Homo sapiens: one gene and its partner. The protein of the gene in region 1 interacts with the protein of each later gene in a biochemical or structural test. Each region holds a gene or a part of one and is shown on either strand. Other genes may lie near its edges.

Region 1 (7,298 bases):
TCTCAGCACTCTGGGAGGCCAAGGCAGGTGAATTGCTTGCACTAAGGAGTTGGAGGGACAACATGGCGAAACCCTGTCTCTATTAAAAATATACAAAAATTAGCCAGATGGGACAAGGAGTGGCCTGATGCACGTGATGGTGTGTGCCTGGGGTCCCAGCTACTCAGGAGATTGAGGTGGAAGGATCGCTACAGCCTCAGCAGTCAAGGCTGCAGTGAGCCAGGATCATGATGCCACTGCACCCCAACCTGGGTGACAGAGTGAGACCCAGTCTCTAAATAAATAAATATAAAGAAGCTAATCGTAAAATACCTGCTTAAAAAATAGGAGACAAGGTATGTGAAAAATAATTTTTTTTTTTAAATAAAGAAATAAGCTCCTCCTTACCTTTTCAGTGGACCCTGATACAATGATTGTTCCCAGTTGATTCATGGCCAGGCTATAAATGGAATCTTTGTTTCCACTTAAAGAAGAAGCTATTGAGGATAAACGGAGCTAAATGTTAACAAGATCATCAGCTGTTTAGTAACTAGTCAGCAAAAACTGCAAGTTTATTCAATTTAGAAAATCTTATCTTTATAAGTCCTCTACGGAAAAGAAATCTACCTATAATGGAGATAAATCTAAACAGTATTATTATCAAAATTTACATATTTTCTGGATTTGAATATATACAAATGCTCAATATCTGATAAACTGCAGTGCCATTGAAAAGCTATCCGCTTAAATGATATGTTTAAAGCTATTCATGTGCCATAAATATGAAAAAATGTTCAATTTCAGTATTTTTCAAACACAAATCAAACCAAAAACACTGTTTCATACACCAAGACAAAAAACAAGGTAATACTTGATTGTAAAAAGAAAACAGTACAATGGAACTCTCATATATTACTTATGTGAAGATAAATAGGTACAACCTTTCAGGAAGGAATTCAGACTATAGCAAAAATCATGTTCATACTCTCAGTATCACTGAAGTAAAAAAGATGTATATGAAACTGTCTATATAGTATGAACCCAATTTTACAAACATATTAAAAAGTTGAGTAAATGAGTTACTACATGTACTGTTTAGAAAAATGTCTACTTGTAGCAAGTACTCAATACAGGTTAGCCATTATTAGTATTATTTTTATTATTATGTATTAAAAAAAAGTGTGATATCCTCTCTAAACAACTCTAAGCAAGATGTAGCAGAATCTGTATCCACTAAGCCTGGGCCCTGACCTTGTGACAACCTGCTTTTTTTTTTTTGCTTTGTTCCCTCCCATTAGTGTCTCTTTGAGGCAGGCCTTACATCCAGACTTAAAACCTAATGATGTACCATGACAGCCCCAACAGGGACCAGCTAATGAATCAGAGATAATGTACAGGTGAAAAATCAAGAACAAGGGAAAAAGAATGTTGAGACCTTCACATATTTCCTGGAAAACAAGGCAAAACAACAATCAAGAGATTATAAACACAAGTCTCCCAACTTACCCTTCTTGGCACATACTAGGCTATATTAGTAAAACTGTATTGTCTATGTCAATGTGAACACTCCACAGAGTCGTTATAAAATGGACCTATAATGTAGGGATCCAGAGAATGCAGGCCCATGTCTTCAATGTAGACTTTCCAGGTCAGGCCTAGCCAAAAATGTGCTCCTAACAGTCCCTTCTGAAACCTGGCCTAGAGGACTCTACTAGGTTGGGCCAAGCATGAAGCTCAATTTCAAATCTAGACTTGTATGAGCCTGACTTGGTAGTCTGAGATCTCTTAGCTGATGAATCATCCATGCTGTGAACATCTCTGGATTGCCTCTAGAAGCACTCTACCGTTCTGGCTCTTCTGGAATTGGCTTGATTCCTCAGGGCTGCTCTAAAAGGCAGAAAATTTGATAAACTGGCACTGGAAACCTTTTCTTTCTTTCTCCTGGGTATTTTTCATCTTGGCTATTAACTCAAAAGCTCTTAACACTTTAAAAAGTCAGAAAACCGCCTACTTTGTCAGAAAATCGCCACCTCCTTCAATAATACCTGCTGAGTGTATGGATTTGGACCAGGGAATGCTGTGGGAGATACGAAGTAGTAAGACAGTCTCCTCTACCCTGCAGGGACTTACATTTTAGCTAGGGAGCTAAGACATGCACACGTACAAAAAATAACCAGGTTATACCTGGAGAAGTTACCATTTTTAGACTGCAGTGAGGAACTAGCTCTTTGTTGTTCAATCATACTCTTGGGGGCCAGAACGCTGTAGGTAGAAGCACTCTCAAAATATGAAACACTCTCTCGATGCAAACCTATCAAAAATGTTTTATAAACCATTCTTTATTTATGTTAACTTGGATCACTTTCAAAGAAGTTTCTTTTAAACACCTTACTTGTGACAGTGTTATTTGAGGCAGTCAATGCTGTTAGAGTATTCACATCCCAAAGGAATATTTGTCTGTCCAACCCAGCTGATGCTACTAGTTCTTTATCCTTGGCATATGCTAAGGCCTTTACGTAATCCTGTAATAGAACAGACATACTATGATCTATTCTGTAGATCAGTAATAAAATGAGCCACACAAAGTACTGAGATCCCAATATTACACTAAAGACACTGAGAACTGTATTGTTTTACCTTATGTGTCCTTAATGTTGACATGCAAAATCCCTTGTGTGCATTCCATACTTTTACTGTCGTGTCAGAAGAAGCAGATATTACTAGAAGAAGCAAAGAATTAACAAACTCCTTAGTAGTATGACTTAAAACTTTGAAAACTTATCTTACAACAATGTAACATTATTTCAAACTAACATATTCTCTCTCTTACACACACAAACATACCTAAAAGCTCTTTCTAGAACCTATTGTATATTGCCTCAATTTTTTAAAATCTCAAGACACATGTTCAAAGAAAAAAATATATTTTTAAAACAAGCAGTGCAAACATTTTTAATGTTCCAGTTGAAGGCTCAACTAATGTGATTGAGAAAAATTCCTGTAACTCGGACTGCAAAACCAAGGAATGGATCTCACCAAAATTAGAACAAAAAGAGGTATTAATAAGGCTAAAAGAAGAATACATATAGTACGAGTCTATATACAGTTCAAATGAAGGCAAAACTACCCTTTGGTGTTCAGAAGACAGAAGAGCAGTTACCTTGGGGCAAGAGGGAATAACTGAAAGGGTGGCAAAGGGTGGCACAAGAGGGCTTCTAGTAATATTGTTTCTTGATTTGGGTATTCACTTTCTAAAATTGTGTTGAACTGCAATCTCGAAGTGTGTGTACTTTTCTGTATGTATGTTTCAATAAAAAAGCTTATATAAAAAACAAAAAATATATCAGAAGCCCAATAATAATCCAAAGAAATACTTACATGTTTTCCCATTACAACAGAGTACAATGTCGTTTACCCAATCAGTATGGTGTTCCATAGATGCTATATATGGATCTTGCTGAAATTAAAAGAAAAATCCTAAGAGTTTATATGAGAGAATGAAATATATTACAAATGATAGATATGGTTAAATTCTTCAATTAATGTGACATACTGCTCTAGGCATTAAAACTAACACCTGAATTCTGAGTAGAATCTCACCAAATAGGTGATGCTTCCAGATAACAGATGTAAACAGTTTTGTTTCAGGACAGTTTTACTCTTACTGAAAGCTTAGGTTTCCAGGACAAATACTTCATTTTTTTTTTTTTTGCCTTGTTAAAGTGAAGGCAACAAGCTCTGGACTAGGCACTGTGTGTGACATAAAACCCTTTAAAAAGGGTTCACTAGAAAGGACATGACTTGTAGGAATCTGTAGGCTGTGGGGATTTGAATGAGTGGTGGTGAAGGCTCAACAGCAGACAGCAGGGGCAGCAATGAGTCTGATGAGTGCACTAAGGAGCCTGGTCTGAATGCAGAGGGAGATAAACACTTCTGCTTTCAGCTTCCTACTGTTGGGTTCACCCTCTGAATTAAATGTTTTCCTCATGGTACCTACAGGCCTTCAGAGATGAAAGGAAACCCAACGGCTGAGAAAGGACAACCTGTGTCACCATTTCAATTAGGTGATTCGAGATTCTACTTCTCTTACCTGGCTTAATAACCAGGAGAGGCCTTTTAAAGAACAGTATTTAGTTACATCCTACACCTAAAACAGGCAAGTTTGAGACACTTTATGGGCAAACAGAACAGCTCTGTACAAGTCTGTTTGACAAATAATGCTATTCAATCTTGTCATAAAAGGAAGACCAGAAAAAAGATGTTTGGGGCAAGACAGGCAGATTTCCAGATTCTTCAGGTTAGTTCTTTTGGGTGTTTTTCTTAATTTGTTTGAAATACTGTGAATGCTCAGAAAGGAGACATTCCAATTCAATTATAAGTACCAAAAAGCATTTCAAAGCCAAACATAGTTTTCTTACTTTTCATGCTTTTGACATTTGGCCACCACTGCATGGTCCATTGGCTAAAGAATTCAAAGCCTGCCAGACTGAAGTTATAGGCGCATAAAGTAGTGGTTCTTTTTCTGAACTGAATATCAGACTTGTAAAACTTGCTAAAAAGACACAAACTTTTAAAAATACAAGGTCTAGCACTAGGGTTTTCAAGTTGGGCTGGGTACTAATTCTCTGTCACTTCCTAGCCACATAACCATGGGTTTCTCTGAGCCCATTTTCTCATCTATGAAAATGGATCTGGCCAGGCGCGGTGGCTCACGCCTGTAATACCAGCACTTTGGGAGGCCAAGGCAGTTGGATTATCTGAGTCTAGAAGTTTGAGACCAGCCTGACCCACATGGTGAAACCCCGTCTCTACTAAAATTATAAAAATTAGCTGGATGTGGTGGCGTGTGCCTGTAGTCCCAGCTGCTGAGGAGGCTGAGGCAGGAAAATTGATTGAAGCCAGGAGTCAAGAGGTTGCAGTGAGCCAAGATCGCGCCACTGCACTCCAGCCTGGGTGACAGAGCGAGACTCCATCTCAAAAAAAAAAAAAGAAAAAAAAGAAAATGGATCCTAATAGGTACCTTGAGGGACACTGAAAATTAAAATCACATTGGATATGAAAATGCAAAGAGCGTATGGCACATAATTAGAAGATCAATAAATGCTCTTTTTTTCTTCCCTGATTCTTCTTTTCTCTGTCATTCACAATATAGGTGTTCCAACAAAATACTAAAAGGGCTCGTTACCATTTGCCTGGGGATTTATCTTTACACATATTTAAACCCTGTTCCCTGCTTAAGAAAGGGAAATCTTTGAAGGGGAGCATGTTGTCTTCATAGTTTTAACACCAATTTTATATTATCTTTATTTATTTATTTGAGACAAGGTCTCCCTCTGTTGCCCAAGCTGGAATGCAGTGGTGTGATCACGGCTCACTCAGCCTCAACCTCCCATACTCAATCAAGTGATCCTCCCACCTCAGCTCCCCGAGTAGCTGGGACTACAGGTGTGTGCCACCATGCCCAGCTAATTTTTAAGTTTTTTTTTTTGCAGAGACAGGGTATTGTCACATTGCCCAGGCTGGTCTCGAACTCCTGGACTCAAGGAATCCTTTCACTTTGGCCTCCGAAATTGTTGGGATTGCAGGTGTGGGCCACCATGCTCAGCCTAACCTTGTATTACCTAGTTAGGCCGTGTGGGGTTTGTGAGGATCCTAATTACTTTTAAGTGAGGAAAATAAAATATTTTTTCAAGATTAATTAGAAATGTAAAAGAATATTCAATCTTTTTTTAGTAAGGTTACCAAGAGGTTGTTGGGGAACATATTTAAAGCAAAAAAATTAATTGTTGAAAGTAATCCCCCTACTAGCCAAATCACTTTGTTCCTTTGTGGCAAAGAACTCTGTAAGGCAAACCTAGTTTAGGGAGTCCTTGTCTTAGCTGAAACACTTCTGAAACTTTCCTAGGGATGGTTTTTCTCAGAGGCTTACAGAATTCTGGTTGCGATGTCTTTATAGAGTGTACCAAATAACTCAGCATTCAGAGAGATTAAATCTGAAACTGTGAAAAGTGTCATATTAGACAGTAAAAGCCATTTGTCCAGAATTTGCTGGGTACAGATTTTAATCCCTGCATTACCTTGTGCTGATTGACACTCCATATTCTTATGATAGAGTCTCGACCGGCTGTGAAAAGTCTATTTAGTGCTGGATCCAGCTGCAGAGCATTGACTCCATTTCGGTTGTACTTCTCCACTTCATCTCGAATAACATAGGAAACCTGACAAATGTGTCAACATATGCTTTTTATAAAGTACAAGCCATGCAGTAATAAAATATAGTCTACTAGTGGCCAATCTGAAACAGAAAATCCCATGTTTTCCAATATGTACTTTTTCAACCCAATACAAATTTAAATTTTACTCCTTAAAGACTAAAGGGCTGAAGAGAAGGATGGTATCAATGATAGCCTAGTCCAACATGAGTAAGTTGCTAAACTACTATAACTGCTTCCTGACTGGACTCCTTTCCCAGTCTTTAGTCCATTTTTCACAAAGCAGCTAGAGTAATTATTTAAAAATCTATCTCAGCTCTGCTCAAAAACCTCCAGTTGCTGACTACTAGACTCATGATTGGATGTAAATTCCTTAACATGGTCTCAAGTACCCTGTTTGTCTTTCTGGCCACTCATCTCTGCTCCAGGTTCTGGTGCATTGTGCCTCCAGACCATCACACATGCTGGTCCTCTCTGTTTGGAAGCTCTTCCTCCGACCTGTCTGGCTAACTCTTGTTGCAGCCTTCAGGTTTCCATTTAAACAATACTTCCTTTAGAAGGCCTTCCCTGACTTGCCAAGCAAAATGAGGTTTTGAGCTCCTATCACATACTAAACTTTTTCTTCAGGGCATTTTCCCCTACTTTGTTACTGTTGGTGACCTCTGTCTGTTCCTTGTGAAAACAGGGGATCAACTGAAAACAATTACACCTAAGAAAAAGTCAATAAGCTGGCTGGCAGCCAGAAGTAAAACTTTCTAATGTAATGAAATAAACAGTTAAAAATTAACTCAAGATGGACTAAAGACTTAAATGTTAAGACTTAAAACCATAAAAACCCTAGAAGAAAACCTAGGCAATACAATTCAGGACACAGGCATGGGCAAAGACTTCATGACTAAAACACCAAAAGCAATGGCAACAAAAGCCAAAATTGACAAATGAGATCTAATTAAACTAAAGAGCTTATGCACAGCAAAAGAAACTATCATCAGAGTGAACAGGCAACCTACAGAATGGGAGAAAATTTTTGCAATCTACCCATCTGACAAAGGGCTAATATACAGAATCTACAAAGAACTTAAACAAATGTACAACAACAACAACAAC
Region 2 (3,730 bases), on another chromosome or scaffold:
GTGTCCAATTACTGTGCGTTGTGGACCACAGCTCTGCCACATCCGATTTTCCTTTTTCCAACCTGTTTGAAGTTCACCTGTGTCCAGGATGGTACCCCAAGGCCGGCTCCTTCCAGGACAAGGATGAGGAGAGAAAGGGAGAAGCCCATATCTCCCCCGCCTCCCTGCAGAGCCTGTCTCCAGTTCACATGTGCAGATGGCCTCACTAGCTCTGGAGATGAAAGGGGTGTGTCAGAAGCTCGGCTCCTGGGGCTCCTCTGTGTCCTGTGCTATGTCCCCGTCTGTGAATGAATTTCAAATGTGGGAACAGAGGCTGCTGGTCAGAGCTGTTCTGCTAGCTGAGGTCAGAACAGGCCACTTCACACCTGTCTGACTAAACACGTTTAGGTCACTCGTCCCAGTCACCAAGTGATCCCTTCAGCCTTGGACCCTCCCTTACTGCTGTGTTGGTACAGCCCTGGAGCCACCCCTTACTGCTGTGTTGGTACAACCCCGGGTCCCCTCACTTACTGCTGTGTTGGTACAGCCCTGGACCCCCCCCCCCCGCTCCAACTTACTGCTGTGTTGGTACAGCCCCGGACCCTCCCCAACCACTTACTGTTGTGTTGGTACACAACTACCACCCCAACCCAAGTCCTGGAAGCAGAGTCCTCTTCTCCTGGAAGCCATCTGGGAGAACAATGGCTTTATTCAGATGTTGGTGCCTCTGCCCCTCTGGTGCCCCCGATCCCCACAAGGGGCCGCGAGGCGGGCAGGTCACAGCAGGTTGAAGTCCCCTTTGTGCTGTTCCAGCCACTGGTCCAGCGTCAGGGCCTTGGGGTTGAGTCTCAGGGTCAGCTCGATGTCACGGTCGGGTCTCAGGGCATAGAAACGGAACATGTTGGCCAGGTCCCGGGCACCGGGAAAGCCAAGCTTTTCGTAGTCCTCAGGAGTCATCTGGAAGCAGAGGAGCCTGTCGTGGCCGGCGTCCTCCAGTGCCCCGGGAGGTGGCGGGGCAGGGAGGCCGGATGGGCTGGGGTCTCCCGACCTGCTACACCCAGAGCCACTATTGTCTCGGTCCCTGACCCAGGTCCTCCGTACAAGGTCATTTGAAAACTTCTAAGAGCCGAAAGTTCAGAAACTGCTGCTCTCCTGAGCTGCCTGACATTGTAGATCAGTTTAAAGATTGTTCTTGGCCAGATGCTGTGGCTCATGCCCGTAATCCCTGCACTTTGGGAGGCTGAGGCAGGCAAATCTCTTGAGGCCAGGAGTTCGAGACCAGCGTGGCCAACACGATAAAACCCCGTCTCTTTCAAAAATACAAAAATTAGCCAGCCTGGTGGTAGGTGCGTGTAATCCCAGCTACTTAGGAGGCTGAGACAGGAGAATCGCTTGAAACCAGGAGGTGGAGGTTGCAGTGAGCTGAGATCACCCCACTGTACTCCAGCCTGGGCAACAAGAGTGAGACCCTGTCTCAAAAATGAATAAATAAAAAGACTATTATTTTCAGATCATGAGACGAAAATATCTCAGTCCCTTCCAAATCAGAGACCTGCCTGCATCACTTTCTTTCTCAAAAACCAAAGCTTGACCAGACACAGTGGCTCACACCTGTCATCCCAGCACTTTGGGAGGTGGAGGTGGGAGGATCGCTTGAGCCCAGGAGTTAGGCCCACCACGCCGGGCTAATTTTTTGTATTTTTAGTAGAGACGGGGTTTCACCGTGTTAGTCAGGATGGTCTCGATTTCCTGACCTTGTAATTGCCCGCCTCAGCCTCCCAAAGTGCTAGGATTACAGGTGTGAGCTACCGCGCCTGACCCAACTTTCGTCTTTTAAGGACTCCAGTGTTTCCCAGATTCTTTTTTTTTTTTGGAGTTGGAGTCTCGCTCTGTCGCCCAGTCTGGAGTGCAGTGGCATCTCGGCTCGCTGCAAACTCTGCCTCCTGAGTTCAAGCGATTCTCTTGCCTCAGCCTCCCAAGTAGCTGGGATTACAGGCGCCTGCCACCACACCCGGCTAATTTGTTTATTTTTAGTAGAGATGGGGTTTCACCCTGTTGGCCAGGCTGGTCTCAAACTCCTGACCTCAGGTGATCCACCTGCCTCGGCCTCCCAAAGTGCTGGGATTACAGGCGTGAGCTACTGCACCCAGCCTCCCAGATTCTTTAATGAGTATGTCTTACTTTCCTAATGGTAATGACAAACATTAGAAACCAGGTACCCAAGAGTCTGTCCAGTAGGCCTCCTGCCCACCCAGCCAGGCCAATGGGGGCAGGGGTCGGCCCTATCTTTCTAGCCTCTTTCCCTTTAAATCCCCTCCCACAGGGGAGGGGTCGGGTCTATCTTTCCAGACTCTTTTCTCTTCAAATTCCCTCCCACAGAGGAGCCCGGCAGGGCCTGCATTTTCACCCCTCCTTGCCTTGGCTCCTATGGCCCTCTCCTCCTGGAAGCTTTTCTCTCTATTTGGTCAAAACATCTAAGCCAGAAATTTCACTCTGTGGCCAGTTAGCTCCTGGAACAGCAGAAAATAAACGTTGACGATGAACGAATGAATTTAGATGTACTGCCCAGAGGTGTGGGCAGCCCTGGACACACCCTCCCTACGGGAGCTAGAAAGCCCTGACAAGGATGCCTGAGTCACCTGGGGCGGGAGGCCCACCTTGGCATCGTGCACGACCTTGCGGGTGTGCTTGGTGAGCAGGGCAGCGTACTCCTCGGCCGTGTGCCTGCAAGTGCTCAGCCCGATGTTCTGGCCGACGTATTTTTCTGGCATCTTCAAAAGGCTGAGCACCACAGGACCCAGGTCAGACACGGACATGCCATCCATGGGAACGTCACCTGTGGGCAAGCCTGTGGGGCAGAGACGTGAGCTGGTATATGTCCCGAGGGCAGACAGGGGCAGGGACAGAGCCCCTCTCCAAAGGGTCCAAGCTGGTTCTTCCCAGCAGTCAGCTGCACACTCCAGCACTCGGGCATAGCTAAGACAAGTCTTGCTATTTGTGGTAGCACAGAGGCAGCAGTGGAATTGAGTCAGGAAACGGGATGGAATCCGGGTACTGCCACCTAGGGCAGGCTGTTGAGGCTCTCTGAGCCTGGGTTGCTGCATTCCTAGAATGGGGCTAAGAACCTGGGCCTGCCCAGCTCTCTCAGCGCTAGGATGACAGAGAAGGGACAAAGGAAAAGGACTCTGAAAGCTGCTACAGAGAGTGTGGCTGGAGCCCAGGGTCTCCGCTAATCTGGAGGCACCAGCCTGAAGTACTCTGTCATATCCTAGATTCCTGGAAGCTGGAACGTCCACCTCTGAGTAGATACTCCAAATACCAACTCACTTACCAGGAATCCTGATTAACCAGACACCAACGGCTGGCCTAGAGCAGCACGTCCATGATAAATGCTTCATAAATCCTGAATGAATGAATGACTCGCAAACTTCCAGGCTGAGGTTTTGTAGATGGGGAGGCTGGCAACTGTCTGGGTGTGGCCTGTGGAATGCTTGGGTCCTATCCTCCTTACCTAGAGACAGGGGCCAGTGCAGCTTCCTGTTCAGATCACCTGGGAGCTCGAGGGCACAGAGCGCACAGACCGGAGCAGGAGATATCCCTGACTGCAGGTTTTTTTTTTTTTTTTTTTTTGAGATGGAGTCTCGCTCTGTCGCCCAGGCTGGAGTGCAGTGGCGCAATCTTGGCTCACCACAAGCTCCACCTCCCGGGTTCACACCATTCTCCTGCCTCAGCCTCCCGAGTAGCTGGGACT

What was found.
Region 2: the proteins of WDR48 (region 1) and NMRAL1 form a complex in vitro, tested with the Homo sapiens proteins (one study listed by BioGRID).

The regions. Positions count from the first base shown.
Region 1 is NC_000003.12:39,061,949-39,069,246, reverse strand, and holds part of WDR48 (WD repeat-containing protein 48), read right to left. Parts: intron 6,198-7,298; coding exon 6,057-6,197; intron 3,437-6,056; coding exon 3,358-3,436; intron 2,700-3,357; coding exon 2,617-2,699; intron 2,502-2,616; coding exon 2,372-2,501; intron 2,291-2,371; coding exon of another isoform or gene 2,177-2,290; intron 477-2,176; coding exon 388-476; intron 1-387. UniProt on the Homo sapiens protein: Regulator of deubiquitinating complexes, which acts as a strong activator of USP1, USP12 and USP46. Enhances the USP1-mediated deubiquitination of FANCD2; USP1 being almost inactive by itself.
Region 2 is NC_000016.10:4,461,024-4,464,753, forward strand, and holds the end of NMRAL1 (nmrA-like family domain-containing protein 1), read right to left. Parts: intron 2,828-3,730; coding exon 2,637-2,827; coding exon of another isoform or gene 2,619-2,636; intron 2,490-2,618; coding exon of another isoform or gene 2,454-2,489; exon of another isoform or gene 2,397-2,453; intron 937-2,396; coding exon 757-936; 3' UTR 671-756; downstream 1-670. UniProt on the Homo sapiens protein: Redox sensor protein. Undergoes restructuring and subcellular redistribution in response to changes in intracellular NADPH/NADP(+) levels.